7 linked regions of the Homo sapiens genome follow. The protein of the gene in region 7 interacts with the protein of the main gene of each other region in a biochemical or structural test. Each region holds a gene or a part of one and is shown on either strand. Other genes may lie near its edges.

Evidence for each region.
Region 1: the proteins of FAT3 (region 7) and PDZK1 interact in a test that uses a peptide from one of them, tested with the Homo sapiens proteins (one large-scale study listed by IntAct).
Region 2: the proteins of FAT3 (region 7) and RAPGEF6 interact in a test that uses a peptide from one of them, tested with the Homo sapiens proteins (one large-scale study listed by IntAct).
Region 3: the proteins of FAT3 (region 7) and DLG2 interact in a test that uses a peptide from one of them, tested with the Homo sapiens proteins (one large-scale study listed by IntAct).
Region 4: the proteins of FAT3 (region 7) and PARD3 interact in a test that uses a peptide from one of them, tested with the Homo sapiens proteins (one large-scale study listed by IntAct).
Region 5: the proteins of FAT3 (region 7) and HTRA4 interact in a test that uses a peptide from one of them, tested with the Homo sapiens proteins (one large-scale study listed by IntAct).
Region 6: the proteins of FAT3 (region 7) and CARD11 interact in a test that uses a peptide from one of them, tested with the Homo sapiens proteins (one large-scale study listed by IntAct).

Annotation. Positions count from the first base shown.
Region 1 is NC_000001.11:145,675,967-145,680,534, forward strand, and holds part of PDZK1 (Na(+)/H(+) exchange regulatory cofactor NHE-RF3), read right to left. Parts: intron 2,680-4,568; coding exon 2,483-2,679; intron 248-2,482; coding exon of another isoform or gene 192-247; intron 1-191. UniProt on the Homo sapiens protein: A scaffold protein that connects plasma membrane proteins and regulatory components, regulating their surface expression in epithelial cells apical domains.
Region 2 is NC_000005.10:131,624,578-131,629,145, forward strand, and holds part of RAPGEF6 (rap guanine nucleotide exchange factor 6), read right to left. Parts: intron 1-4,568. UniProt on the Homo sapiens protein: Guanine nucleotide exchange factor (GEF) for Rap1A, Rap2A and M-Ras GTPases. Does not interact with cAMP.
Region 3 is NC_000011.10:83,460,640-83,465,207, reverse strand, and holds part of DLG2 (disks large homolog 2), read left to right. Parts: intron 1-3,114; coding exon 3,115-3,206; intron 3,207-4,568. UniProt on the Homo sapiens protein: Required for perception of chronic pain through NMDA receptor signaling. Regulates surface expression of NMDA receptors in dorsal horn neurons of the spinal cord.
Region 4 is NC_000010.11:34,360,340-34,364,907, forward strand, and holds part of PARD3 (partitioning defective 3 homolog), read right to left. Parts: intron 1-4,568. UniProt on the Homo sapiens protein: Adapter protein involved in asymmetrical cell division and cell polarization processes. Seems to play a central role in the formation of epithelial tight junctions. Targets the phosphatase PTEN to cell junctions.
Region 5 is NC_000008.11:38,976,825-38,981,392, reverse strand, and holds part of HTRA4 (serine protease HTRA4 precursor), read right to left. Parts: intron 3,441-4,568; coding exon 3,246-3,440; intron 2,179-3,245; coding exon 2,146-2,178; intron 1,435-2,145; coding exon of another isoform or gene 1,402-1,434; exon of another isoform or gene 908-1,401; intron 1-907. UniProt on the Homo sapiens protein: Serine protease.
Region 6 is NC_000007.14:2,946,077-2,950,644, forward strand, and holds part of CARD11 (caspase recruitment domain-containing protein 11), read right to left. Parts: intron 1,712-4,568; coding exon 1,499-1,711; intron 1,012-1,498; exon of another isoform or gene 521-1,011; intron 1-520. UniProt on the Homo sapiens protein: Adapter protein that plays a key role in adaptive immune response by transducing the activation of NF-kappa-B downstream of T-cell receptor (TCR) and B-cell receptor (BCR) engagement.
Region 7 is NC_000011.10:92,350,061-92,354,628, forward strand, and holds part of FAT3 (protocadherin Fat 3 isoform 1 precursor), read left to right. Parts: intron 1-2,035; 5' UTR 2,036-2,052; coding exon 2,053-4,568.

The sequences.
Region 1 (4,568 bases), on a different chromosome or scaffold from region 7:
GAGAACATACCATTGCACTCCAGCTTGGACAACAGCGGGAGACTCTGTCTCAAAAAAAAAAAATGAGATTTTATTCATGCTTCATTCAGATAATTGGGTGTCTAGTATGTGCCAGGGACTGCTAGAGGGTTGTGTTTTACTCACTGATGTATCTCAAAGATCTACCCTCCACCCCAACCTACAGGGCTTACTTTGGAGAGCGGGGAAGGAGATGATGAGGGCAGGCTTCTTTTTCGATCAAAGTTCTCTATTAACCAAAACAGAAAAATTACAATTAAATCATTCTATGATAAGATCAGGAGGGGTCAGAATCCCCTTTACAACAAACAGCTGCAGCAGCCGCCTCTGATTTCTGCTTGACTTTCCACCAACTGCAAAATGACTCATCATTTCTGGCAGCTTCAGTTGGTTCTTAAGCCAAAAGCTAGCTCCCTATGGCTTCTCTGGTCCTGTTGTGCCCCATAGGACACCTTAAAAAAAATGTGTGGCCCGGGCGTGTTGGCTTATACCTGTAATCCCAGCACTTTGGGAGGCCGAGGCGGGCGGATCACAAGGTCAGGAGATCGAGACCATCCTGGCCAACATGGTAAAACTACTAAAATACAAAAAATTAGCTGGGCATGGTGGTGCGCACCTGTAATTCCAGCTACTCAGGAGGCTGAGGCAGGGGAATCGCTTGAACCCGGGAGGTGGAGATTGCAGTGAGCTGAGATGGCACCACTGCACTCCAGCCTGGTGACAGAGCAAGACAACGTCTCAAAAAAAAAAAAAAAAAGTGTGCTCCTTCTTACATGTAATAGCCTTTCAAATTCTTGAAGATGCTCTCTTCTCCAAAGCCTTACTCAAGCTAAATACTCACATGGTGGCTTCCAAAACCTCTTCCCTGGTTACCCTTGTCATTGCCTTCTTAAAGTGAAGTTCTTGAAACCGGACACAATATTGATTGAACAAATAGAACATTTAGATGTGTGAGGCATTATTCTACATGCTCTGAATATTCCAATTCAACCCTCATAGCCACCCTTCGCTGTAGCTACTACCCCTCTCTTACAACTAAGGAAACTGAAGCACAGAGAGAGGTGGTAACTATATTACCAGGTATTCCAAGTATGGTCTGACCAAGTAAGTACAGTAAGATGGTCATCTCTAGAAGCCAAGTGTCTGTCAGTTAATTTTTAAATTACCATATTTGGATGGGGCAACCACTTGGACTATGAAGTTTCTGGTCTTTTTCTGTAGTCCTCAAATCAGGTCTCACCATGTGGTATTCATACAATTTACTTTTAGGTTAGTATAGTACATCTGAAATTTATTCTTATTTCTTTAGTTTTCATTCTTTCTATCCTAACTAAATATTTTGAGTATTAATTACACCATCCAGCAAATGAATTATCTAGTGCCACTTTAAGTATGTTAATATATTTTCCATATCTCCTTTCAACTTTAAGCACATAAACGGTTAGGAACAAGTAGCATGCCATTAGAGACTTCTATTCAAGTTGATATTCAGGTTGATATCAAGTATTTTCTAGGTATGATTGTTCAAGTAGCTAAAAAAAAAAAGCCATTAATCTAATTAATTGTTTAATCCTGCTTACAAGATTATCTTGAAAAAATGTGCTGGGGAGTATGGTATAATGAATTACGGGTCCAAGAATTTGGGTTCAGATACCACCTTCAGTCTTTACTAAGCTGCGTGACTTTAGCAAAGTGCTTAGTCTCTCTAAGCTTCGGTTTCCTAATCTATGAGGAGGGCCTAAGATATCACCACCCATCATATTCCCCCCTCTGTACCGCTTATTTTAGATTCTACTATCATTGTATATCACAGAGGACATTTATCTTGTTCATCTTTACAATCAACACTTAGCAAGACAGATGGTACTTAGAAGGCCCCCCAGGTTATCTGTTAAACTAGACAACCTCAGTTCTTGTGTTAAAAGTAAAAAAAAAAAAAAAAAAAAAAAAAAAAACCTTAAAACATGCAGTAGTGGGTGTTATGATAAAGAGCTGTTAAGAGAAAATAAAGTTAGTTTGATTCAGGTTGGTCTTGGTCTATCTGTGTTTCTTTTTTATTTGCTAAGGGCTTACAAGTTGTTTAATAATCCTTTCTAGGCTTTTATGTGCAGTTGATAGCACTTAACTGACCTAAAGCTTAAAATCTAATTGTTTCCTATTTTGGGAACAATTTTATTTCCAGGCTTATATTCTCCATAGATTTTCTCAGATCACCAAGAGTAAGCCTGCAGTTATATTCACAAATTCTTTCAAAATCTTAAGACCAAGGACTTAAAACTCATTTATCAATCATTTGGCATTCTCTTATCACTACCAATTTGAGTTGAGCTTCAGTTTAGCCTTAATGATGATTGTTATGCCTCTTCCAGTTTGAGGAACAAAGTCCTAACTCAGTGCAAAAGTTGAGGTCATGAGTGAATGGGCCCAGCCTTAATGCATGAATATATGGCCTTGTATTACTTACCAGTCTGTACATGTTGTCCGTCTCTTTGTCTACCACCAACAGTGAAGTCTGATCTCCACCCTTTCTAATCATTTCTACCACACTGTCATGATCCAGGGTTTCCACAGACTCGCCGTTGACAGCAACTACCAGATCATTGTTCTTCAAGCCAGCCTCCTCTGCTGGACTTCCAGAATCTATGTCCTTGATGATTTGACCTACCCTCCCCCAACCCCAAAAAATAAAATTATCAGTAAGTCCCCTAAAAAAATAAAACAGATTTTCTGCTGGAGCCCAAAGCCCTGATGAAACAGATAAAAAAGGCATGCTGAGTACAACTACCACCCCTTCCACCAGCATCCCAGGAAGCTTATAAGCACACTATCTAGGCTCGTTTCCTGCTCAGAACTCACCCCAGAAACTAACCCAGCAATTAACAATGAAGGGGTCTTAACGAAAATAATCCTGTTACTAAAAGCGTCTGACATTTGATTTTGGCAAAATAGCATATTAAAAGGCTGCAAGTTCCCAGAAAGTCAGTGGGCATACTTGTAGCCACGCGTCTTATGTAAAAGCTGTCATAAAAGATGGGGAAGAATAAAGAACAAAACCCAAAACTTTGGACCTTAAGAAACCCAGGCTGGCATTTTAGTAGCAATTGGGTGTGTTCGGTTTTGAATATATTTGTATATACATGCCTCCATGTGCTTTGGCCTTCTGGTATCTTCACCAGATGCTGCCTTTTTTTTTTTTTTTAACAAGTTCCTGTTTCACTTTTCCAGCTAGCTGCTGGGTATCTCCAACAAAATATCTCATAGATCTCTCAACTGTAATGTATTCAAGCCAAAAATCAGCTCTGCCCATTCTCCATCCCAAAGCCCCTCCTCTTGGTTACCTGTTAGTGGAGCAACATCATCCCAGTCACCAACACTTGGCAACTGATTCTTCCCCAGCATCCAGTCCCCATATCTAGACGATTGCTAAGTCCTCTGATGCTACCATAATACCTTACACATCCCACTTCCTCTACCCTGAATGCAGTTTGTATTAGTTCCTGCCTAGAATTCTACCTAAACTATTACAGCACCTTACCTACTGCTTTCCCTTCCCCAGTCCTTCTGTCTGATACAGATCTGCCTTCAGATCCATCTTGGTGCACATTCCTAACCAAGTCACTTCCTGGTGCAACAGAATGAGCATGGGCTTTGGAACTAAACAACTATTTGACCTTACATAATTACTGTATCTTCTCCAAGCCCTCAATTTCAGCAGTTCTTCTTGCATAATTGTTAGGAGTAATTGAGATGTGCAAAGCCCCCAAGACATTATAGGCTGGTTTTTGTTCTTCTCCCTTATACTGCTCAAAAAACAACTCCCCATTGTCTGATAAGCCAAGTTCAAACTCATCAGTCTTGCATAGAAGTCCCCTTGTCACCTCTCTCCAACCTACCTTTCCAACGAATTCTTGTACTACACATCATGTGCCAATTAAACTGTGCCAGTGTCTCCTGACTGTGTTCACATGATTCCCACCTTCCTGGAATGATCTTCCTTATCCCAGCTCTGTCTACTTTCCCAAATCTATTCATGTTACAAAGCCTGAACTCAAGTGCCACCCCTACTATGAGGGCTTCTGGTACCTTTTTAGTGAGAAAAGCTTACTCTAACGTTGAATTATCACAGTGCTTGATCTGCCCCTGTATGAAGGTACTTAACCTCTATCTCCCTTCATTATGGACATATCTCTTATCTACTAAATGGTAGACTCCTTCACTAAAGAATTCCTGTCTGCTTCATATGATATTCTTTCTCCAAGGCACTGAGGATGTTTTTACAAAACACAAACCAAATTAATATTTGATAAATTAATGTAAACAGAGAGTGAAAAGAAAATAACAACTTATGGGCGAATAGCAGTTTATACGGCCCGAACTCATGTTCTTTTATGTATTTACCTTCCCTGAAAGAACCTAGTGTTCTTCCTATTGAGTTGCAAGGAAGGAGGACTCCTGGTTCTGAGTCCCAAATCCTCACCCACACCTCGGCCTCAGGTCCAGCGGTGTGCTATACTGGCTCACACCGGCTCACAAAAGCCAATTCTGTGCAA
Region 2 (4,568 bases), on a different chromosome or scaffold from region 7:
GGAGGCCAACCTGGGCAACACAGCAAGACCTTGTCTTTAAAAACAAAACAAACAAACAAACAAACAAACAAAAACACTCCACTCAAATTAAGTTCAAAGGCACAAAGAAAAAAATCTGCAATGACAGAACCAGAAGAGTGGTTTCCTTTGGGAGACTGAGAAGGAAAAAGGGGAAATTTCTGGAGTGCTGGTAATATTCTTTATCTGTATTCTGTATCATGATACACACAGTAAAATATGTTTGTAAAAATTAATCTGGCAATGGCTGGGCGCAGTTGCTCACGCCTGTAATCCCAGCACTTTGGGAGGTCGAGGCGGGCAGATCACTTGAGGTCGGGAGTTCGAGACCAGCCTGACCAACAAGGAGAAACCCCGTCTCTACTAAAAATACAAAAAGTAGCCGGGCATGGGTGCAGTGGCTCACACCTGTAATCCCAGCACTTTGGGAGGCCGAGGCGGGCAGATCATGAGGTCAGCAGTTCGAGACCAGCCTGGCCAACATGGTGTAACTCTGTCTCTACTAAAAATACAAAAATCAGCCAGGTGTGGTAGCAGGCATCTGTAATCCCAGCTACTTGGGATGCTGAGGCAGGAGAATCCCTTGAACCCGGGAGGCAGAGGTTGCGGTGAGCTGAGATTGTGCCACTGCACTCCAGCCTGGGAGACAAGAGAGAAACTCCGTCTCAAAAAACAAACAAACAAACAAAACAAATTAATCATCTGCCAATGTATATTTAGGGCATATGGACTTTATGTTTTATAGTTCATTTCAAAGTTTTTCAAAAAAGTCTGGGGGAGGAGGAGAAATTATCTTTCCAACCAGTGACCAGGTTGGGCCAATTCTACCTCCTTAATACCTCACTATCCCACTTAACTGCTGCCACCACTGGGTCCAGGACCTTATCTCACACCTGAACTACTGTATTTGTTTCTAACAACAAAACATACTTCTTGGTGGCTGGGCACGGTGGCTCACACCTGTAATCCCAGCATTTTGGGAGGCCGAGGTGGGTGGATCACGAGGTCGGGAGATCGAGACCATCCTGGCTAACATGGTGAAACCCCGTCTCTACTAAAAATACAAAAAAATTAGCCAGGCATGGTGGCGAGCGGCAGTAGTCCCAGCTACTCGGGAGGCTGAGACAAGAGAATTGTGTGAACCCGGGAGGTGGAGCTTGCAGTCAGCCGAGATAGCGCCACTGCGCTCCAGCCTGGGTGACAGAGACTCCGTCTCAAAAAAAAAAAAAAAACCATACTTCTTGGTTTCCATATTATCTTAGTATAATCACTAGTAGTCTTACCTTTCACATGGAAAATATCCCAGTTTGGATAAAATACATGTCCAGTCTACCTGTATACCTATAAGCCTCCCTGTCTCTAGTCTGCTCCTCCCCACTCAATTACATCTCCAAAATGCTCACATAGTAGTCTTTATAAAACTGATCTTATTTCCAGGCTTTAAACCCTGCAACGGTTCTTTCTCCTTTATTTATAAGATGGAGTCCAAATTTCTGAAATTATCCAAACCCTGCTAGTACGTCCAGCTTCATCATTAAACATCTCACATCATGTACCATCATCCCCAAACATCCTAGACATTAGCCCCAGTGTTCTGCAACCTTTTTTTCATTTTCATCCCCTCCCAAAGAACCTTTCAGACAATTTTTCGTAAGCACTGCCCCATCTCTAATTAAATACTAAAGAATAAGACACTGTCAGTTTAGGGCTGAGTTTTAGAGGGCCACAAACCATACCAATAGCTGTGATTTTTTTTCCCACTCCCATAAAAGGCAATTTTTGCATCTTTGGGAGCGATATCACTTCCAACGGGAATGCCTGCTCTAGACTTACAGATTGGCTTCTTATTCTACAAGTATACATGGCTTGCCATCATCAGTACTTTTGCTCCTGCCTCTCTGCTTGGAATGACCTCTCTTGATCATCCAGAAATCAATTCATGACATTTAACACTGGGAATTCAATGCTCCCCCATGAAGCTTGTTCCCTTCCCCATCTTGCAATCCCAAAGCCCTACTCATACCTTTGTCACTAATAACTAAAACATTTATTACATTTATGTTTTCTTATGTCTCCCAAGTCATTGATGAATAGGGACCATGTCTAACTCCTCTCTACAACCTTGGTTTTTAATATATCAGATATATTATTTCTTAAATGAATGTACAAATTAATGTTATCATCTGGGTGAGGTAACCATATCTCAGTTTAAGCGGGACAGTCCCTCTTTAACCTGTTACTCTGAAATAAATATTAACAGCTTCTCTTTTAATTCACAAAAATGATTTGAACAACATATTGTTAATCTATACCTAGGAAATATAGGAAATAAAATTCTGAGCAAGAGTAGAACATAATCAGATCTGAGAGGAAGATCACTCTAGCAGCAAGACTCAATGACTCAAGCAATAATTTGGGGGTAGAAACAATAAAACAGACTGAATTAGAGTAGTAAAACTTGTAAGAAAAGGGCAAATAAAAAGATTCAGGGGACAAAGTTTAGTGGCAAGTTGCATCTATGAGGAATGAAGAGAAATAATACAAATTCCTAGAGACAGCAACTCGGCCAGCTGCCAACAGATTATGAAGGAAGAGGAATAATGATGGCTCAATTTAGGACAAGTGGTTGAAGAACCTGGAGGACAAGATGGTTGATATATGAAGCTGAAGCACATAAAATTTAGGGGATAAGTTGGAAAACATAATCCTAGGAGGCATTAGCCTATAACAACTAACTGAAACCAAGCTGCTGAGTAAGACTGTCCAAGAAACAAAAAGTTAGCAGTTCCAATGAATACGAAGTGCTACCTTTTTAACATATGATGACTTTACAAAATGTATTTCCAAATTTTGGCTTGTAAAATATTTATTCATCATTTAATATGTGCAAATCATGGCATTAAGCACTGAGAGGGAAATAAACATTAAGGGAAATATAAGGAGTTCATTCTGAAGTAAAAAAAGGAACGTTATAAAGAATGGTATTAAATGTGGATTGAGCTGAGAAACAGCCAAGTTCAAGGTCTAATTATGACTGTGGCTTCTTTAAGGAATTCTGGCATAATGACGCAAAGAAGTACAGGCATACTCTGTTTTATTGTGCTTGGCTGGTATTGTGGGGTTGTTTTCTTTTTTTTTAAATACAAATTGAAGGTTCATGACAACCCTGCATCAAGCAAGTCCAACAGCACCATTTTTTTCAACAGCACATGCTCACTTCATGTCTCCGTGTCACATTTTGGTAATTCTCACAACATTTCAAACTTTTTCATTATATTTGCTATGGTGGCCTGTGATCAGCAATCTTTCATGTTACTACTGTAATTGTTTTGGGGCACCACAAACTGTGCCCATGTAAGATGGCAAACGTAACTGATGTATGTGTTCCAACTGTTCCACTGGCTGTTCCACCTTCTCTATCTCCCTCTCTTGGGGCCTCCCTATTCCCTGAGACATAACAATACGGAAATTAGGCCAATTAATAACCCTACAATGGCCCCTAAGTGTTCAAGTGAAAAGAGTCACCTATCTCTCACTTTAAATCAAAAGCTAGAAATGATTAAACTTAGGAAGGCTAACAACGGCCCAAAGCCAGGCCTCTTGCACCACACAGTTAGCCATGTTGTGAATGCAAAGAAAAGGCACATGGAGAAAATTAAAAGTGCTACTTTAGTGAACAAAAAAATGATTTAAAAAAAAAAAGTGAAAAAGTCTTATTGCTGATATGGAGAAAGTTTGAGTGGTCTAGATAAACCATCAAACCAGCCACAACAGTCCCTTAAGCCAAAACCTAATCCACAGCAAGGCCCTAACTTTTCAATTCTAAAAAGGTTGAGAGATGAGATGGCTGCAGAAGAAAAGTTTGAAGCTGGTGGAAGTTGGTTCATGAAGTTTACGAAAAAAAGCCACCTCCACTAACATAAAAAGTAAGTTATCCTGAAGATCTAGCTAAGATAATTAATGAAGGTGGCTACACTAAAAATCAGATTTTTAATGTAGACAAAACAGCCTTATATCAGAAGAAGATGCCACCTAAGACTTCCATAACTAGAGAGGAGAAATCAATGCCTGGCTTCAAAGCTTCAAAGGACAGGCTGACTCCTGTTAGAGGATAATGCAGCTGGTGACTTTAAGTTGAAGCCAATGATCATTTACCATTCTGAAAACCCTAAGGCCCTTAAGAATTATGTTAAATCTATTCTGCCTGTGCTCAGTAAATAAACAACAAAGCCTAAATGACAGCACGTTTGTTTACAGTATGGGTTAATGAATATTTTAAGTCCACTGATGAGACCCACTGCTCAGAAAAAAAGATTCATTTCAAAATACTACTACTCACTGACAATGCATCTTGTCACTCAAGAGCTCAGATGGAGGTACACAAGGAGATTAGTGATTTTTTTCAGGCCTGCTAATACAACATCCATTCTGTGGCCCATGGATCAAGGAAAAGTTTCAACCTTCAAGTCTTGTTATTTAAGAAACACATTTCATAAAGCTACAGCTGACATAGACAGTGATTCCCTAACAGATCTGTGAAAAGAAAATTG
Region 3 (4,568 bases), 8.9 Mb from region 7:
GGATTCTTACCAGGATAAAAAAAGTAAGATCGGGAGGTCACTGACAGTACCTTCAGCCCCATGAATTTAGGTATTAAATTATAATATAAAGAGTTTTTCCCATGGCTGGCACATGGAAAAATATGTACTAATGATAAAATAATGATTCTTAATATTATCATCCCCAATAGCATGTATTAAATTTCTCCTTGTATAGGATACTATGTCGGGCATTGCACAAAGTGAATTAAGCAAGTACAAATTTCATGATGTAAAATTGATTTATAATCTGTCAAGAGCCTCATAAATATAAGTAATGCTAACATTAATGAGAAGAAAAATAGTCCTTACTTCCTGGGAACAGCCATCTTAAAGGCCTGTTTCAGAAATAGAAAAATAAATCTTCATATTGTAAACACTCAGTGGGATAAATGGCTTCCCAGGGGAATGAGGCCTGAGGGAACGACAGCAGTGGCACATTTGGTCCGGTGCAATATTAGGAGACAGTCCCATCTGGCATTCCATAGGAGAAGGTCTACTGCCTTCCACAACTATGAGATGACTTATTTTAGTTATGCCTTAGGGCACTGTCACAGCCACTTATCACCAAGGAAAGTTAAATGTACTAAAGGCTGGACTTCACAATAAGGACAGTGAATCTGACATAATTTGCTGCAGCCATATTCATGGGTCTCAAGTGCAGTGATGGTGACATTCAGACCAATGCAATCTACCTACTAAAGGTTGGATGTTTACTTTACAGTTCACTCTTTTCCAAGGCTTTTACTCCAGGAGCAAAGCTGCCATGAATTGCCCATTCCCCAGAGAGTAGTGAATGCTAGGTCAGCCGGAACAAAAGCATGACAGCTGTCACATTTACACATTGATACATCATCACACACATTATTTCTCAAGTGCATCATCCACATCAAATCACAGAGCTTATTAGCACATACATAGCTGACTCTTCAGAGGAGCATAAAATCAAAGATGTGTATGAAAGGGATGTTCTTTTTATATTGTGCCACCATCTGACTTCTGTTCCCTTTCCATGTGGCAATCTCCCTTCACCCTGCCACTTCCAATCTGCTTTTACCTTCCTGCTCCCATGATGCTCTGTGTTTACTTCTGTCTTCAACTATCTTATAATTATGTTTATCTAGCTCCCCATTTGTTCATTCATTCATTCATTTACTCATCTATTCATTCAACAAATAAATGTTGAATCAGTCTCCATGCCACATGCTGACAAACAAGCCATGGTCTTCGCCCTCAAAGAATTACTGATCAGTCAAGGAGACAAAATAAATTCACAGGTCAGAGAATAAAAACCTAAACTAAGTCATTGCTGTAATCAGTAAAAAGGGAATTCAGAGAAGACAGAATTCTTGGAAGGCAGGTCGAAGATGATCCAGAACTATGTGATTTCTTTCTTTGAGACAGGGTCTTGCTCTGTCCAGCCCAAGCTGGAGTGTAGTGGTGCCATCATGGCTCACTGCAGTCATGACCTCGTGGGCTCAAGCCATGTTCCCACCTCAGCCTCCCAAGTAGCTGGGACTAAAGGTATGTGCCACCATACCCAGCTAATGTTTGTATTTTTTTTGTGGAGACAGGGTTTCACCCTGTTGCCCAGGCTGGTCTTGAACTCCTGAGCACAAGTGATCCACCTGCCTCAGCCTCCCAAGGTGTTGGGATTACAGACGTGAACCACTGTGCCTGGCCCACATGATTTCTTGACATCTGGAGCAAATATTTATCTTTCTCTGAAGAGTGTCCCTTGGTTTAGCCCAGCATCTTCTCCACCCACGAGTAACATCCATTCACAGCATGTACAGCTGAGACTGTTTGGAAGAAAAATTATACATAACACCCCTCAGGACAAGATGAGTTTAGCAACAAGAGTTCAGGAAATTCTCACTACTTTGTATTTCAGCCATTAATGTCTAATGTCAATATATTGTTTTTTTTTTTTCCAAATAGCCTCTTTTGAAAGATATCAAGTCTTGGTATAATAGGAAGTCTAACTGAAAATTGGTTTAAAAAACCAAAACCTTGAGTTCTTACCCCAGATTACTCTTCGTTAAATACACAGCCTTAAGCACATCCCTTCTTGCCTCTGTTACTTGCTCTCGAAAGGAATTGACTAAGGCCAGATGTTCCAGACCCAAATCTCTGGCTTCCTAAGCAGCATGCAAGACGGTAATGATTTCAGAAATTCTACATGCACCTGTGATGCATCCTGATCAGCCAACCAAATTGCATTTGGCAGGACATTTTTTTTTTAACACCTGGAAGACCCGGAAAGATAAAGCTGCCAGTAGTTAAGAATCAATAGATTAGGTTTTAGAGAGAATTCAAGAATTTTTCATTTCTCTCCCACCTTGATTTATCCTTGAGCCTTTTAAAAAAAATTTATATATAATAGTTGTACAAATTTTTGGAGTATATGTCATATTTTAATACCTGTATACAATGTGTAATGATCAAATCAGGGTAACTGGAATATCCATCACCAGAAATGTTTTGGGAACATTACAGTTCTTCTCTTCTAGCTATTTTGAAATATTCCTATAACTGCATTTTATACCCCTTAACCAGCTTCTCTTCATCTCCCCTCCTGCCTTCCCTTCCCAGTCTCTGATAACTACCATTCTACTCTCACATTTCAGAAAGTCTGAGATACACTAGAACAAACTCCAAGAAAGGGTGGTCAGGAAAGTTCAGATTTAGAAATCACATCCAATGAGGGGATAGATGAAGCAATAGGACAGTTTATTCTGAAGAAGTAGAAGCCTCAAGACACACTTAAGCACTTTACTTAAATATCCTAGGGCCTACCATGGAGGATATTAGGTCCCTGCAGAACAGGGACCAGTGACTACAAATCATAAGGAGACATATTTGGCTTCAATCCAATGTGGGACCAAGAGACTGCCCTTTGAGAGAATGAGCTTTCTGGCCGTGAGTCCTTGTTGCTGAAATTATTCCAGCACAGAGGAGTCCTGAATGAAGACTAAAAACCTGTTGCTAAGATTACACTATGTTTTCTGTAGGATTTATTTTTGCCATACATTTTAATTTTTTAGGATTTGGAATATTCCCTTTATGTTCTAATACAAACCCTCATTTTCCCAGGGAGATGAATAAGCGTCTAACAGAGGAACAAGCCAAGAAAACCTATGATCGAGCAATTAAGCTAGAACAAGAATTTGGAGAATATTTTACAGGTAAGTTCACTTTTACCCTGGTAGTGTGAGAAAGGGGATAAATTGTCTGACATTTGGCACAGAGAGGGTTCTGGGCCTGGTGTACTTGTGCCCTAAAACCTTCCTGTTGAGAATCCCTAATATCTGTTTCATATACAAGGAGTATCCCTCTGCTTCACCCATTTTGATGTAAAACCCTGGGTTCTCCTGAGAGTTCAGCTGCAGCCAGCTCCCAGGTTCCCACCAGCCCTACCCAAAACCATGGGCAGGAGATACCCCTGAGCTATCTCCTACCATGAAAAGGATTTGAGGCATTGCTACCTCATTAAACTATCTCCCTGATATCATCAGAAAACTTGAAAAACAAAATTTTAGGGCTCAAAATGGTCAGTGTCCAAAGCAGTTACTCTTGAGAAGAAGCTTGGAGGCGTCCGTCCCCAGCTCCATGAGCTTTCATCAGTGTCCCTATCAGCAGCACCTGAACAAGATGCTTAAAACTTCCTCATGTTTCAGTTCACTGTGTCAAGTCTCAACCAAAACTGCTTTTTTTTTCTTTTTAAATGTTTCCTTGGAAACATGAAGGGGAATAGAGGTTTTCTTCTGGAGAGCCTGAGTTCTGAGTTCTGTATTCCTATATACTTTCATAGAACACTGAGTAATCAGACTTTGTGAAATTTGCCTTACACCTGGTTCCCGGAGGTTTAAAAACAAGAACTTTCGAGCTGGGCTTATGCCTCTAATCCCAGCACTTTGGGAGGCTGAGGTGGGTGGATCACCTGAGGTCAGGAGTTCGAGACCAGCCTGGCCAACATAGTGAAACCCCCGTCTCTACTAAAAATACAAAAAATTAGCTGGGTGTGGTGGCAGGCACCTGTAATCCCAGCTACTAGGGAGGCTGAGACAGGAGAATCACTTGAACCCAGGAGGTGGAGGTCGCAGTGAGCCGAGATCGTGCTACTGCACTCCAGCCTGGGCAACAAGGGTGAAATTCTGTCTCAAAAAAAAAAAAAAAAAAAAAAAAAACCCAAGAACTTTCTTCCTGGATTACCATATGTGAAGTTAGATGTTTTATTTTTTACCTTATTCAGAATATAGAAAGTGTCAGTGCCTTAGCAGTTTGTAAATATCTTGAATCAGGTAATATTAAGTAATCTTTCTGTCAGTAACCAAGATACGAGCTGTGTTTCATCCTAAAAGAACATCCAGGTAGGAGAAACAAAAGTGTACATTTTGACAGTGGTTTATATTTTGTATACAATACAATAATATATTCTGAGGATTGTTTTTAAATATCTAAATCATCTTTCAGTAGTAATTTATTTTTAAGACCTAGTGTCATATGGATAATACTGATGTGTTTTGGAAATCTTTCTACAAGATAAC
Region 4 (4,568 bases), on a different chromosome or scaffold from region 7:
AGTTCCTTAATCATAAGAGGCAAAATATTTCCATGAAGGTTCCACAGCAAGATCCATGAAAACACTACATCTGCACCCACTCCAGAAGATTCTTGGAACCAGCTGTTAATATTTTTATGTAGCAATTATTCAATATTGAACCAAACTTAAATCAGATTTGAGAAAGATAGAGGGAAAATGTAGTGGAAGGACTAAAGACTAGTAGATTTCTAGAGTTCGGGATTTTTTTGGTGTAATCATATATTCTAAACGACAAGAAAAACAGTAACAATGGGAGTAAAAATAAATAAATATAATTCATTTATCTCCCTTTTTATGAGGAAATTCTGAAGTTATCAATATATTTAATGTTCACTAATGGTGTTTATTCACAAAAAATAACAAATCCTGATCATACAAAATCAGCAGAAAAAGGTATATGGGTTCAGAGAGCCTCTAAAGAATTCTAACATCAACATCTGTGAGACAAAGTAGAGATATACAACATCACAGAAAACTTTTCCACAATATTGTAGCATACATAATATAGCTGGTAAATATTATTCAGGTAATCTTGTTTAATTAGTTAAGATTTAACTTCATAGTCACCAAGCATAGAAGGAAGACTTTTTAAAATAAAAAACATTTAGGATATACAAATTATTGTTCACCTCCCTTAAAACAGAGGAAGAAATGAAAGCTTAATGTAGAACTGAATAAAATGCATTAAGATGACAGCCTATCATTAAGAAAGCCTACACTCCAGAAGAGGAAGCACTCAGCCTTCTGAGCTCCTCCTCCTCAGCAATCCCGCCCATGACCAAGATTTCCACCATCTCTATACTGGTCATGTCCAAATCAGTAAGGCTAGGATGCTTGTTCAAGCACAAACTCTTGCTCCAACCACATAACAGACACGTGGCACAGGCTCTTCAAGTAAAAACTGAATGGCACATCTAGTCCTACAACCTATTTCTCCTCCTCTTTTCCCACGTTTGAAATATTTCTCCAGCATCTGTTTAGTCATTCAAGCTTGACTTATCAAATTATAATTGAAGAATAAGAAATACAGTGGTACACAGATATGTAGGAATATATACTTTAAACAGATTGTGCTTTTACAGAATGTTCAATAACACAAAAAAAGTAGGTGACTGCATCCTACCAAATTTTTAAAATGTCCTAATAAGAATAAAAATCAACCCAAGGAATTTGGAATTCAAGGAAATTTGGAATGCAAGGAATTTGGGGCATAAACATGCAATCTCAGATGTCTCAATTAGATAAAATACATTTTGAGAGTACACTATCTGTAAGTGAATTTTTTAGATCATCATAAAATAAGCAATATGCTATTTATAAATCTTTAGACCCATAGTAATGTGATGTTTCTAATTTACAAATATGTAAAGTTAACATTTTATGGTAGGACATCTTTGTGCTATCTCAAAGGATGGCCTGATAGTTTTTAAAGACAAGTAACACTTCAATTACAATAAACTTGCTAATGGGTTAAAAAAAAAATTAAAACTTATATAATGAAGAACTCAAAATAAGAATCTGAAAAAATACAGAGTAATAGTCATGTTAACTATGCAAAGTAAATACATTTATGATCAAAGTCCAAATAAAGCCTTAAGCCTGCTCATCATAAAAACTAGATTTAAAATATTCCCAGGCTGGGCGTGGTGGCTCACGCCCATAATCCCAGCACTTTGGGAGGCCGACGCAGGTGGATCACGAGGTCGAAGCAGGTGGATCACGAGGTCAGGAGATCGAGACCATCCTAGCTAACATGGTGAAACCCCATCTCTACTAAAAATACAAAAAATTAGCCAGGCGTGGTGGCGGGCACCTGTAGTCCCAGCTACTTGGGAGGCTGAGGCAGGAGAATGGCGTGAACCTAGGAGGTGGACCTTGCAGTGAGTGGAGACCATGCCACTGCACTCCAGCCTGGGCGACAGAGCAAGACTCTGTCCCATAACAAAAAATAAAATAAAATAAAATATTCCCAGAGAACAATTTTAGCTCAAATAAAACCAATGTATTGTGGGCAAAAAAAGATCAAATATATCAAATACTTTGATACAAAAGTATCTTTATATACATGCTTTGCTCTATAAACATGAATATTCAATATACTTTTTATTTTGGTCCATGTAGCTCAAAACAAGTGTTTTTGTTGTTTGTTTTTTTGAGACAGTCTCACTCTGTCACCCAAGGTGGAATGCGGTGGTACAATCACTACTCACTACACCTTTGACCTCCCCAGGCTCAGGTGATCCTCCCACTGCAGCCTCCAGAGTAGCTGGGACTACAGGAACATGTCAACAAACCGGGCAAATTTTTGTATTTCTTTAGAGATGGGGTTTCACCATGTTGGCCAGGCTGGTTTCAGACTCCTGGGCTCAAGCAATCCACGCACTTTGGCTTCCCAAAGTATTGGGCTTACGTGCCCAGCCCCTTGAAACATTTACAGAGTACGAAATAATGACTATGTGTGAATGAACTGCACTACCTCAATATAAAATCTGTTACAAGAATATAAAGTACGGTAAATTTTGATGTTTAAAATACAAAACAACATCAATACACATCATAGTTCCCCTTGACTTTAAATTTGGAGGTTGCTGAAATAAAAAATTATTCTGTCAATCAGTACTTATAAGCATGGAAAAGCTACATTTGAAAAAATGGAAAACAAGAATATTCTTTCTATGGACACACCTAAGTCTCATCACTCACTATGCTTACTTGCTTCAACTCTGGAAGGTTCTTAATTGTTACTTTCTGATTTGAATCTTCAGTTGCCTTTTCAGTGTTTACTGAGTTTTACATTTCCATAACATTTTACCAAGGCTTACAATTCTCATATTTTTCCTACTTGAAAGATCAGGATAAGGAGCTGGCTGCATATATGAAGAAAAATTTTAATCAAGTTGCAATATTTTCTGATTGCTGAACTCTGAACCTGTTTTAAAGAAGAGCATATTCTCCAGGGGATAGTTTATTTATTATAACAACTGCAGAATGGGAATAATCTTTTTCAGCTTTCTTACCAAGTCTTAAGTCATTATTATCATTAAGAACACTGATGTGAAACATTGTATGTTTCATGTGATATTCCACTATTAATCCATTTGGCTTTTGACATAGACAGAAATTAATGCCAGCTTTTAGAACTTAGTTCTCTGGCAGAAAAATGTTTTTTAAAAATTGTGCTCTTCAAAAATCATTTGAAATGCTATATTACTGAGAATGTTCATAAAGTCAGATAGTATAGGAATCTCCATATTCTGATGTAAAATAGAAACTAACTTTCTATCACCTTGCTATTCCATCCAAATTCTGCACCTTATCAACTGTTTCTCGAATTAAGATCTTTCTACAGAAACGCAAAAAATGTCTTTTCTTTAACTCACTCCTCATGTCATCTGGGCACAGTCATGTCACTCAAGCACACCTGCCTCACGCACATACATGTGTGTATACCTCAAGTGATTGTTTTCAGCAACAAAGCCTGTCAGTTCTTCCTTTGCCCATTTCTCCATTACCATTTGTTGTCTTTAAATGCCCAGAATAAAAGGGCACCTTTGCTAAGGAACCTGCTGAATGGGTATTGTGAAAGCTACTTACTATCCCACCCTCCAGAGAACAGCAGAAAAGATGTACATTTCTATCTGCAGTGAGACAAAGAGTCACAAGTGGGCACCATCATGGCCCCCTTTTCCTTCTTCCCGAAATCACAGTCCAAAAAACTGAGAATAGAGCTGGCCTATAGGCCCAAATCCACAGTTAATCTGCAGCAAAGGTGTTATCTATAAAAAAGGAAATAAGAGTTGATTGTGTCAAGCAGCAGAAAAACAATCATGGGAAGGGTAATCTCTGAGCCGCAACAAACGAAAATTTGGATGAGAATGTACAAAATATTGTGAAGAGAGGCAAAAGAAACATGGAATGTGCACAAATGATAGAAGACCATAAAATTATAGGAGTGAGCTCAATAGCCGATTTTTGGCTTTGTAACAAAATACGTGACTCAGCAAAAGTTTCATCACTCCACTATAAATCATTAATTTCTCTCTCTCAAGATCTGCCCTTATCTACAGAATTATCTTTTTTTTTTTTAAAGACAGGGTCTTGCTCTGTCATCCAGGCTGGAGTGCAGTGGCATGATCATAGCTCTCCATAACCTTGAACTCCTGGACTCAAGTGATTATCCCGCCCTCAGCCTCCCAAGTAGCTAGCTGGGACCCCAGGCACACCACCAAGCCTGACTAACTTTTTCTCTTTTTTGTAGAGACAGGGTCTTGATATGTTGCCCATGCTGGTCTCAAACTCCTGGGCTCAAGCAATCCTCCCACCTTGGCCTCCCAATATGCTGGGATTATAGGCAAGAGCCACCATGCCCAGCTGAGTTATTAGCAAATAGCTAGTAAATTAATGCAAAAATCCCTAGTAAATTAATAACAAAAAGATAAGCAGTCTGCATCAAACAGGAAAAGGATGTAAACAAGCCATTCACTAAAGAAAGATGAGCAAACCAATAAATCAACCTCCAAGTACAAGGTTCAATCTTACTCGCAAAT
Region 5 (4,568 bases), on a different chromosome or scaffold from region 7:
AATCTTGAGCTCATGGCTGGGCAGAGTGGCTCACGCCTGTAATCCCAGCACTTTGGGAGGCCGAGGCGGGCGGATCACGAGGTCAGGAGATCGAGACCATCCTGGCTAACATGGTGAAACCCCATCTCTACTAAAAATATAAAAAATTAGCCGGGCCTGGTGGCGGGTGCCTGTAGTCCCAGCTACTCGGGAGGCTGAGGCAGGAGAATGGCGTGAACCCGGGAGGCGGAGCTTGCAGTGAGCCGAGATCGCGCCACTGCACTCCGGCCTGGGCGACCTAGCGAGACTCCGTCTCAAAAAAAAAAAAAAAAAAAAAAAAAAAAAAAAAACTTAAGCTCATTTTTTTCCTTTAGTAAGTTACATTGACTTTAAAAGTGAGCCACAGTTTGTATTTTGACAAAGGTAGAAGGACAAGGAGCATTTGCCTTTTTATTATTTAAAAGTAAAAATAAACATGGAAAAGGTAAAAAGCTGTGGGATTGTCAGTAACACTGCACTGAGAATTAGCAAAATTGACCTTAGGGAACAAAGCTCTGCTAAGCTAAAGGTATGAGGTAGAAAATATTTTCCTCTTTATGTACCTCATCTTCCTTTAGCCTTTTAGGTAATGGGAAAGGATAAAAAAGAGATTTCTTTTTTTTTTTCTTTTCTTTTTGAGACGGAGTCTCACTGTGTTGCCCAGGCTGGAGTGCATTGGTGCAACCTTGGCTCATTGCAACCTCTGCCTCCCGGGTTCAAGCGATTCTCCTGCCTCAGCCTCCCAAGTAGCTGGGATTACAGGCGCATGCCACCATGCCCAGTTAATTTTTTTTTTTTTTTGTATGTTAGGTAGAGATGGGGTTTCACCATGTTGGCCAGGCTGGTTTTGAACTCCTGACCTCAGGTGATCCACCCACCTCAGACTCCCAAAGTGCTGGGATTACAGGAGTGAGCCACCGTACCCAGCCAGAAAAGAGATTTCTGATTGTGTTAAACTACAGATTGTAATTCAGTAGGTCGGGGGTATGGCCTGAAATTCTGCATTTCATCCCTGCTCTAGTAAACTCATTGTCTAATGGAGAAGGCAGGAACAAAACAAAGAAAAATGACATGCAATGCTATGAGTAAAAAAAAAAAAACAATCATTTTGCATAAAATTCATTCTAAAAGCAAATGTAATATTTAAACAGGAACCAAAAGCAATCAGTGCAAAGGGACTCAGAAAGGATGATCACATGCTATGTGTCAAACAGCATTGCACTCTCTTAGGTTTTCACATGTATTTGGGCAACTAGAAACCCTGACATTTCCACTAGAGACACGGAATACAATTTAAGAATACATGACACGGCAATGTATTTGAGAGGCCAAGGCAGGCAGCTCACTTGAAGTCAGGAGTGCTGGTTGTGGCTTTTCTCTCATCTATAAGCAGGTCAAGAGGTCAAGACTAAAAACCTGGACAGATGACATTATGTAATTAGCATTTTTAAATGAGAGATAGTTCTTCATATGCAGCATCAAGGAGTCTTCAAGGACCTACATTTCATAGCAAAGCTGGTCATTTGGCATAAACCTGGGTTTAATATCCAGGGCTTTTGGCACAGCATGGTGGCTCATGCCTGTAATCCTAACACTTTGGGAGGCCAAGGCAGGAGGATCACTTGAACTCAGGAGTTTGAGACCAGCCTGGGCAACATAGTGAGACATCGTCTCTATTAAATAAATAAATAAATAAATAAAATCCAGGGCTTTGGGTAACTAGCCAATGAAAACAGAAAGCACGGGGAAGAGAGAAATTTCAAAGGAAGCCGGAGCTAGAACCCTAGTGTTCTCAGTGGGATGAGATCACACACCAGGATAACAATCTTGAATTTTTTCTAACTATTGACTTAAGGTCCAAGAACAGAAAAGCACCATTCCACAGCTCTCTACACAAGAGTGGCACCCAAGTCTGCATCATGGAATATGTAAAGTCCTTTTTTGTTTTTGTTTTTGTAGATATGGTGTCTTGCTGTCTTGCCCAGGCTAGTCTCAAACTCCTGGCCCCAAGCAGTCATCCCAAATGTGCTGGGATTACAGGCATGAGCCACCACCCCTGGCCTGGAATTAATAAAGTCTTTGAAAGTTAAGAAGAAACATGAAGCAACAAGGAAAGTGATCACTTACCAAGTTCACCAGAGGACCACCAGAATTCCCATACTAAAAGCAGAATTTGAAAAAGACATCAGTGAAGCTAATGAATACATTCCCCCTTGTCCTTTACACATAGCTCCCAAAACAGTTTACCAAAAGCAGCCCACCAAGCTCCTATTCCCCCCAGGCCGGCAAAATTGTGCCCCTATCATCACCAATACCAAAGTCAGTGTAGGTAAAGAACTATAGCAGTGGGACCACCACCTTCATTTTTTTTTTTTTTTTTTGAGACGGAGTCTTACTCTGTTGCCCAGGCTGGAATGCAATGGCGCAATCTCGACTCACTGCAACCTCTGCCTCCCGGTTCAAGTGATTCTCCTGCCTCAGCCTGCTGAGTAGCTGGGATTACAGGCACCCGCCACCATGCCCAGCTAATTTTTGTATTTTTAGTAGAGACAGGGTTTCATCATGTTGGCCAGACTGGTCTCGAATGCCTGACCTCATGATCCACCCCCTTCGGCCTCCCAAAGTGCTGGGATTACAGGCATGAGCCACCGTGCCTGGCCAAGGGACCACCACCTTCTTACAGGAGGGGTGACCTCTACAACAGACCACCTAATAGCATGGATGCCAGCGATCACAGCGAACGAGACAGACTCTAACAAAGTGGCATTCCATTCCTCCCACAGTGATTCAACCAAACCTGGACATCCCCAAAGTTCACTCTGACATATTCTTCTCACTGAACTGCCAATATTGTGTGATCTGAGGAAAGGCCTCCTAAGTCAGCAATCCCCAAACTTTTTGGCACAGGGACCGGCTTTGTGGAAGACAATTTTTCCACAGACGGAGGGGTGGTTTGGGATGAAACTGCTCCACCTCAGATCATCGGGCATGAGTTAGATTCTATAAGGAACATGCAATCCAGATCCCTTGCATGCGCAGTTCACAATAGGGTTTGCACTCCTATGAGAATTTAATGCCGCCACTGATCTGACAGGAGGTGGAACTCGGGCAGTCATTCTCACTCGCCCATGGCTCACAGCCTGCTGTGCGGCCCAGTTCCTAACAGGCCATGGACCTGTACTGGTCCACAGCCCATGGGTTGGGCACCTCTGTCCTAAGTGACTTACATTAATTGTGGCATCAATCTGGACGTAGTCCATATCTGAATCCTTCATCCCCAGTTCTTTGCCCCCTCGCTGTTTGGTGCTGACAATTCCTGCAGTAGCTGTGTTCTGCAGAGAAAATGGGCTGCCCAAAGCCACCACAAACTCTCCAGCCCGAAGGTCAGATGATCTTCCCAGCATCAGTACAGGAAGTTCAGCCTGCACGTGCCCAAAAAGGGATGGGGAGGACAGAAAGGGTAAAGAACAAATCACGATCAGAATTGACCAAAGTGTGTGTCTAACACATATATGACGCTGTCTCTATCACCTTGGCCCTTACCACCTGAGAAGCACCCACTCACACAGCTTCTATGATTGCCTTCTACTTCTTCCTCAAAGTCCAACTACCATGAAGCTCTTGAGTGTTAAGATGACTAGGATCATTTCTAAGATCTAAAACAATTACTTTGTAGAAATTACTATTAGTAAACAGCCAGTGAAGTCACTGATGAACATAAACTGACATTAGGAATTTACACAGCACCATTCCAGCTCAAAGCTTAACAGTCAAAGTGAATAAGCCACAAACAGAAAGGAGATCACCCAGGGTGACACTTCTCACACTGTAATGTGCATGCAAATCACCTAGGGATGTTATGTTAATGCAGATTCTGAGTCAGCACATCTATCTGGGTAAAGGCTGAGACTCTGAACTTCTAAAAAGCTCTCAGACACCATGTCAATATATGTGATGTGCAGACTACCAGTACTATGTGTAGGAAGGACTTCAAAGTATTCCTTAGCAACTTTGAGTCCATCGCAGTAATTTCTGATATCCTAAGACAAGTAGAGAAATAATTTTCCCTGAAGCAGCATTTGTTGAAGGAGGAAAAAAAAAAAAAAAAGACTGCTTGATAGTTAATAGAAACAGTTAGAGGCCAAGCGCAGTGGCTCACACCTGTAATCCCAGCACTTTGGGAGGCCGAAGCGGGCGGATCACTTGAGGTCAGGAGTTCGAGACCAGCCTGGCCAACATGGTAAAACCCAGTCTCTACTAAAAGTACAAAAATTAGCCAGGCGTGGTGGCAGGCACCTGTAATCCCAGGTACTCAGGAAGCTGAGGCAGGAGAATCACTTGAACCCAGGAGGCAGAGGTTGCAGTGAGCTGAGATTGAGCCACTGTACTCCAGCCTGGGTGACAGAGGGAGACTGTTTCAAAAAAAAAGAAAGAAAAGAAAGAAACGGTTAGGGATATACAGAAAGGCGTTGAAGCAAATAAATAAAAGAGGGAGTAAAGAACAGAAAGAAACCAGAGAAAAGCATATATTCAACAGAAAAGATGTGGTG
Region 6 (4,568 bases), on a different chromosome or scaffold from region 7:
TTCTATCACTTCTGAGTTGTATCTTGGAGCCCAGATGACGTAAATCAAGGTGCCAGGCCCTCCGCAGGGATTTGGTGAGCGTTAGTTTTCTGTTTCTAATAAACTGGTAGAACCAGGATAAATGGAATTGCCGCCCCAGTTTTGAAGAGTTTCCCAACTGACCAGGGCCAAAATGAACCACGTAGGCACCAGGTCTTCTATGACTGAAGGAGGTTGGAAGCACGATAAAAATTATGGAATAATATATGGTTCTCTGGGATTGAGAGCAGGAAGACAAATCTTTGGGTGAGAGGCTAGGAAAAATCATAGGAAGTAGGGATAGTTCTAGGTTTTTCTTTGGGATTATTACACAACCTGGAAACACCTTAAATGTAATTTCCCCAGCAGGTCCCAGTTTCTATACTATTGATTCCACTTATTGCTTACATTTCTGGGCCCTTCCTTAAACATTTTATTTTCAGATATTCTTCTGAGATATAGAAGAAGAAAGGTAGGTCTTAAAACTCGACCTTTTCCCTAGGACGGACAGAAGAAATAAATTTGATGGTATGTCAACCCCGATTGTTTGGTGAAGCCGCCTGCAGTACTGTTTCGAGAAACATTCCAAAGTTACATCCAAGCTCAGTGGGAAAGCATGCTGATTACTGATGTCTGCCATGGATGCCAGAGAGTCGCAGCTGATGAGCCACTTACCACCAGCCACGCTGGGGGACAGTGATTATCAAACCTTCTAAACTGATCCATAGAAAGAAAAACATTTAACATTGTGGTCTAGTGACCATAGACAAAGATAACTCTACAAGTACATGTGTATACACATGTACATAATGTAAAATTAAAACAAGCTTCACAAACCATATTTATTACCTTTACTGAATATGATAAACCCCCCCTCCAGAAGTCAGGCTAGAAAAGCTTGTGGAACCCTTCTCGGAATATTTTTAAACAGATAAAGTACATCAGATTACAAAAGAAACCAATTATAATAAAATCCAGTTATCAAATATTAAATAAATTTGTGTTTCAGTAACATACTTCTTTATTAATGCATTAAATAACAAGACCTCTCGGCAGGTCTAATAAGTACTGTAATTTTGAAAGAGAGATGAGTGTAAGTGGCATTTTGAGAGATTTGCAGTAACTGTAGTGATAGGAAGAGATCTGTAATTTTCATTGTTGCCTAAGTCACAAGAATTACTAATCACTCCTGTAATTTGTGGCTTCCTGACATTTGCAATTGAGGGCAATGCTGAATTGCAGTTGAGGTTGGTAAAATAAAGATGGCATTTCTTCCCCCCTCCCAGTTTATGGATCCTTTGAGTTCCATACACAGACAGCTTGAGTTCTATACACAAATGAGTAGGTGATGGACTGCGGACCCCAGTTTAAAAATCCCTGACCTAGAGCAACTTCATTTTGGTACAGCTACCAAAGGGTATGTCTGGAAGTTGCCGTGTGCGGTAGCCCTCCCTCTCCCGCAAAGAGGTCCTAAGGTTACCTGCTCGGTTGATCTTGGATGGCAGCATAGGGGCATTAAGCACTTCATCTTCATCCTGCTCATCAATGACCTTACACTGACGCAGGTAGGGCGTGAGCTTGGCAGGGTTGATATAGCGGCTGAGCATGTGCCGGTTACACTCCACATTCTCCCACAAGGCGTCCTCTTCATCCTTCAGCGTCTCCATGTAGTCATCCATCTCTGGCCCTCCTCCTTTTAGACATAAACCCCAACAAGCTTAATAAAGCAGTCTCACTGGAACAGCTCTATCAACTCCTCTGGAGTGACCTCTAGAATATATTAAGTTAAAAAAAAGTCCTGTACACTAAAGTATATATAGCATTTTACCTTTTGTCTAAGAAAGGGGTTATGAATATAAAAATATATATTTCCTTATATGCTAAACATAAACAATGGAAGTTTAAGCCATCAATTTTAAAAAAGATTATTTATAGGGCAGAGAGGGAAAATCCTGCGGTTGAGTCTACCCTTTCCATCCAAGTTTTTATGTCTTACTAAAAATGTATAGTTCCCTAAACAATATATACTATTGGCTTTTGTTTTAAAATTTCACATAAATGGTGTCATACTGTACGTTTCCTTTTTCAGCATGTTTTTCTCCCTCTACATTTTTTTTTGAGATTTATCTAGATGGATACATATAGATCTAAGTCATTCGTTTTTAAAAATAGCTTTATTGTGATGTAATTCACATAGCATACAAGTTACCTTTTTAATATGTTCAATTCAATGATTTTAGTATATTCACAGAGCTGTGCAACCACCACCACAATCAATTTAAAATCATTTCCGTCATTTCAAAAAGAAGCTCCTCACCCTTTATTAGCCACTCTCAATTTCCCTCTAATCCCTGCTCCTCCAGCCCTGTGTAACCACTCGTTCACCTTCTGTCTGTATAGATTTGTCTTTTCCGTACATTTTATACAAGTGAAATCCTACAATTTATGGTCTTTCATGTCTGGCTTCTTTCACTCAGCAACTTTTCAAGGTTTGTTCCTGTTGTAGCATGTATCAGGACTTCACTTATTTTAAATTGCTCAGTGATTTTTTCATTGCATGGACATGCCCCATTTTGCTTGTCTGTTCATCCACTAATGGACATTTGAGTTATTTCTACCTTTTGTCTATTATGAACAATGCTGCTATGAACATTCATGTAAAAGTTTTTGTGTGACTGTATGTTTTTATTTCCCTTGGGTAGATACGTAAGAGTGGATTGTTAGGCCATATGGCAACTCTATATTTAACATTTTGAGGAATTGCCAAATTGTTTTCCAAAGCAGCTGCATCATTTTACATTGCCACCAACAAGCCATGAGGGTTTTAATTCCTCCATATTCTTGCTAACAACTTGTTATTGTCTGTCTTTTTTATTACAGCTCTCCTACTGAGTGTGAAGTAGCATCTCATTGTGGTTTTGATTTGCATTTCCCTAATGACTAACGATGTTGAGCATCTTTTCATGTGCATATTGGCCATTTGTGTGCATTGAGAAATGTCTATTCAAATCCTTTGCCCATTTTAAAATTGTGTTGTTTGTCTTTTTATTATTGGGTTGTAGGATTTTGTTATGTATTCTGGATGCAAGCCACTTATCAGATATATGACTTGCAAATATTTTCTCCCACTCTGTCAGTTGTCTTTTCACTTTCTTAAAAGCATTGTTTGTAGCACAAAAGTTTCAAATTTTGAGGTAGTCCAATTTATTTATTTTTTCTTTTTTTCACTTGTGCTCTTGGCATGTATCCGAAACACCATTGTCTAACTCAAGATGATGAAGACTTACTCCTGTTTTTTGCCTTTGAATATTATACCTTAGTTCTTACATTGAGGATGATCCATTTTGAGTTAATTTTTGTGTATGGTGTGAGGTAGGGGTCCAGTTGCATTCTTTTATGTGTGGATGTCCAGTTGTCCAAGCACAGTTTGTTTGAAAAGACTACTCTTTCCCCATTGAATGATCTTGCTACCCTTGTTGACAATCAACTGACCATAAAAGTAAACATTTGTTTTTGCACTATTGATTCTATTCCATTGATCTATATGTGTATCCTTATGCCAGTACTACATTGTCTTGATTACCGAAGATTTGTAGATTTGTAGTAGGCCTTGAAATTGGGAGTATGGGTCTCCCAACCTTGTTCTTTTTCAAGATTGTTTTGGCTATTAGGTGCCTTTTACCTAATTTTAGGATTAGGATGTCAATTTCTGCAAAAAAGGCAGTTGGCATTTTGGTAGTGAATCTGCTGAATATGTAGATCAATTTGGAGAGTACTGCTACCTAACAATATTAAATCTTCTGATCTATGAACAGGGGGATGTCTTTCTTTAAATCTTCTTTAATTTCTTTCAGCAATGTTTCATAGTTCTCAGTGTACAAGTCTTGCACTTCTTTTGTTAAATATATTCCTAAGTATTTCATTAATTTGATGACATTATAAATGGGAGTTTTTTTCTTAATTTCATTTGTGGGATATTCATTGCTGGTCTATAGATATATAATTTATTTTTGTATATTGACCTTGTATTCTGCAACCTTGTGAAATCATTTATTAGTTCTGTTAGTTTGTTAGAGACATCTTATGATAGCCTATATATAAGATCATGTCATTTGCAGATAAAGGTAGTTTTACTTCTGTTTTTCCAATCTGGGTGCCTTTTATTTCTCTTCTTTGCCTAATTGCTCTGGCTAAAATACCTCCAGTACAATGTTAGATAGAAATGTTAACAGCAGGAATCCTTGCTTTGTTACTGATGTTAGCGGACAGCATCCAATCTTTCACTGTCAAGTATGACATTAGCTGTAGGCTTTTGCTTTTGTTTTTAAGATAGATGTCCTTTATCAGGTTGAGGAAGTTTTCTTACCTTCTTGGTTTATTGAATGTTTTTATCCTGAAAGGGTTGTCGATTTTGTCAGATGCTTTTTCTGCATTTATTGAGGCTGCCATGTGGTTTTTGTTTTTTATTGTATTGATAGGGTTACACTACCTGACTTTCAGATGTTAAACCAACCTTGTATTCCTGGCATAAATCCCACACAGTCAGGGTG
Region 7 (4,568 bases):
ACTATTAAATTTAGACAGTTTCCACAGTTTCATGACTATGTGGGTTAAAAGGTAAAAACTTTTTCCTATTTTAGCCAGTAAAATTAATCAAGGAGAGGGGAGAAAGGAGGTATTCAACAAGAAAAAGTTAAGTCTATTTAGACTTAACTAATAAAGTCGAGATAGGAAAATGAGGTTTTATATTATCATTAACAAAAAGGTTATAATAATATGTGCCTTGCTAACCTTGGATATGAAAGGGTTTTATAAACCATACAATTTGTAATATTTTAATATGTTAAACTCCTGTAGGGATTTTTTTTTTTTTCAGTTTGCAGCCAATAACTAGAACTACATTAAAACCAGAGAGGAGATAACCAAAAAGATATGCTGGGGGCAGGGATGGGTTGTACTTTTTAAAATCAATGACATATGTTGACTATTTCATTAGAATTAAATTATGTCATATATGCTTCTAGGATCCTTAATTATTTCATTCTTGCTTGCAGGTAATTTTGAGAGAGTGATTGTGTGATGGGGAAAAGCATGGATTTTAGAGAAAGATTAAGGTCTGAGATCCTGCTTTACTACTTGCCGGCTGGGGAACATTGTTTGGGCAAATGTCTCAACTAAATAGATTAACTTCTCTGACCCTCAGTTTTCTAATATGTCATTGGGTAAAATAGTACCTATTACTTAGGATTATCATGAAGATTAAATACAACAAAGTGGAAAAATGACTGACACAGTGCCTACATCATTACATGCCTGCAAAGAAATTCATTTTCCATCTCCTCTCATCTTCACGTTCCCTGTAAAGGAAGAAAAGGAGAATGTCAAGGGCTTGCAGAGTATAAGACTGGATGGAAGAACTCATATTTGGGGGTTCTAAAAATCTGATCCTTTGGGTATGAATAGACTTAACTTTTTCTTGTTGAATACCTCCTTTCTCCCTTCTCCTTGATTGATTTTACTGGCTAAAATAGGAAAAAGTTTGTATCTTTTAACCCACATAGTCATGAAACTGTAGAAACTGTCCAAATTTAATAGTCATTGATGAAAGTAATTGGAAGTATCTCTTGTAATTTCTAAAGTTTTTCTTGCAAGTAATCACTCTTACCTCCCTTGTTCTGAATAGTTCTGGATATCACTCCAGTCATATAACTCCTTAGGGATTATTGTCTCTGCTTTGTAACTTGACACTTTGTTCATTCTCATGGCATTGCATTATTCATAAACCTTGATCAGTTTAAAAGTAAGCACAATAAAAGATGGTAATACCTTGAAGCATTTTAAAAAGATTATAATTATAAAAGTAATTATGTAACTATTGATGAACAATGTTCATTGAAGAAAAGTTAGAAAATGCAAATATGCCACCAAATCCCAAAACACAGTTAATCCTTTTTAAATATAAAAATTCATTTGCACATATAGGTGTTTATATAATAATAGAACTCATGCTATATATACTGTTTGATGACCTTTTTTCCTTAGCATTACATCTTACTGCATCTGAAAATGCACATCTTTTATGTCTCTATTTTTAATGACTGCATAATATTTTATTTTATGAATACACCATGAATTATTCAGTCCTCTATTGATAGGCATTTAGCATCTCTTCATTTTTTTTTTACTTTAAACTGTGCTATAACAGATAATTGTCTAAATGTTTCTATAGGATAATTACTGCAAAGGCAGTTCTAAGTCAAAGGTAAATGCACTTAAGGCTTCCAATATATCTCTAAATTGACCTTCAGAATGTAAGAAATCTTGTACCAATGAACAACGCTGTCAGTAGTATAAAAGTGTTATTTAAAACAAAGTGTCACTTGAAAACAATTCTTACAAGATTGGGCTAAATTCTAGTAATCTTAAGTTCCTTATTACCTAGTAGTGGCAAGGTTTCTAATTTTTTCTTATATTGCTGTTTTAGTAAAAAGATTTTGTGATAAAGTTTTAAAAAGCATGGCTTCCTAATAGTTATTTCCCACTCTCCCCCTTCTTCTAGGATGGTTAATTTATCTTTTCTCTCTCTCTTTCTTCCCTCCAGGATGGAAGTATGATGTGATGGATATAATTATGGGACACTGTGTGGGCACACGGCCTCCTGCTTGTTGCCTCATCCTCCTGCTTTTCAAGCTTTTGGCCACTGTCTCCCAGGGGCTGCCAGGGACTGGACCCCTGGGCTTCCACTTCACACATTCCATTTATAATGCTACCGTGTATGAGAACTCAGCAGCAAGGACCTACGTCAACAGCCAGAGTAGAATGGGCATCACCTTAATAGATCTATCCTGGGATATCAAATACAGAATAGTGTCCGGAGACGAGGAAGGCTTTTTCAAAGCAGAGGAAGTCATCATTGCAGATTTCTGTTTTCTCAGAATAAGAACTAAAGGTGGCAATTCTGCCATATTAAATAGGGAAATCCAGGATAATTATTTATTGATAGTAAAAGGTTCTGTCAGAGGAGAGGATTTGGAAGCATGGACCAAAGTGAATATACAGGTTTTAGATATGAATGATCTGAGACCTTTGTTTTCACCCACAACATACTCTGTTACCATAGCAGAAAGCACACCTCTAAGGACTAGTGTTGCCCAGGTGACTGCAACAGACGCAGATATTGGTTCCAATGGAGAATTCTACTACTACTTTAAAAATAAAGTTGATCTCTTTTCAGTTCACCCCACGAGTGGTGTCATCTCCTTAAGTGGTCGATTAAATTATGATGAAAAGAATAGGTATGATCTGGAAATTTTGGCTGTGGACCGGGGAATGAAACTGTATGGGAACAATGGAGTGAGCAGTACTGCAAAGCTTTATGTTCACATTGAGCGCATAAATGAACATGCCCCAACAATCCATGTAGTCACTCATGTTCCTTTCTCGTTGGAAAAAGAGCCAACATATGCAGTGGTGACAGTTGATGACTTAGATGATGGAGCGAATGGAGAGATCGAATCTGTTTCCATTGTGGCTGGGGATCCTTTAGATCAGTTCTTCCTGGCTAAGGAAGGAAAGTGGTTGAATGAGTACAAGATTAAGGAGAGGAAGCAGATTGACTGGGAGAGCTTTCCCTATGGCTACAATCTCACTCTTCAAGCAAAAGACAAGGGATCTCCTCAAAAATGTTCAGCATTAAAGGCAGTCTACATTGGCAACCCCACAAGAGACACTGTCCCCATTAGATTTGAAAAAGAAGTGTACGATGTGAGCATAAGTGAATTTTCCCCTCCTGGTGTCGTGGTTGCTATAGTAAAATTAAGTCCTGAACCGATAGATGTGGAATACAAATTATCTCCTGGTGAGGATGCAGTGTACTTTAAAATTAATCCTCGGTCGGGTCTGATTGTTACAGCACGGCCACTGAATACTGTTAAGAAGGAGGTTTATAAACTGGAGGTGACAAACAAGGAAGGAGATTTAAAAGCACAGGTCACCATCAGCATAGAAGATGCAAATGACCACACCCCAGAATTTCAGCAACCACTGTATGATGCTTATGTGAATGAAAGTGTCCCAGTGGGAACCAGCGTTCTAACAGTTTCAGCTTCTGATAAGGATAAAGGAGAAAATGGGTACATCACCTATAGTATCGCTAGCCTGAATTTGTTACCATTTGTCATTAATCAGTTTACAGGTGTTATTAGCACAACTGAAGAACTGGATTTTGAATCCTCCCCAGAAATTTACAGATTCATTGTTAGAGCCTCTGACTGGGGTTCACCATACCGCCATGAAAGTGAGGTCAATGTGACTATTCGAATAGGAAATGTCAACGACAACAGCCCTCTCTTTGAAAAAGTGGCTTGCCAGGGAGTTATTTCATATGACTTTCCAGTTGGTGGTCACATCACAGCAGTCTCAGCGATCGATATCGATGAACTTGAACTTGTAAAGTACAAAATCATTTCTGGAAATGAACTTGGCTTCTTTTATTTAAACCCAGATTCTGGTGTTTTACAGCTTAAAAAATCACTGACAAATTCTGGCATTAAAAATGGCAATTTTGCCCTCAGAATTACAGCAACTGATGGAGAGAATCTTGCAGACCCCATGTCTATTAACATTTCAGTCCTACATGGGAAAGTGTCTTCAAAGAGCTTCAGTTGCAGAGAAACTCGTGTGGCTCAAAAGCTGGCAGAGAAACTACTCATTAAGGCAAAAGCAAATGGGAAACTGAATCTGGAAGATGGATTTCTTGACTTTTATTCAATTAATAGACAGGGACCATATTTTGACAAGTCTTTTCCTTCTGATGTGGCTGTAAAGGAGGATCTGCCAGTTGGTGCTAACATTCTGAAGATTAAAGCCTATGATGCCGACTCTGGCTTCAATGGAAAAGTGCTATTTACAATATCAGATGGAAATACGGATAGTTGCTTTAATATTGATATGGAGACTGGGCAGCTTAAAGTCCTTATGCCCATGGATCGAGAACACACAGACCTCTATCTCCTTAATATCACCATCTATGACTTAGGTAATCCACAGAAATCGTCATGGAGACTGCTGACCATCAATGTGGAGGATGCTAATGACAATAGCCCAGTTTTTATTCAAGACAGTTACTCAGTTAA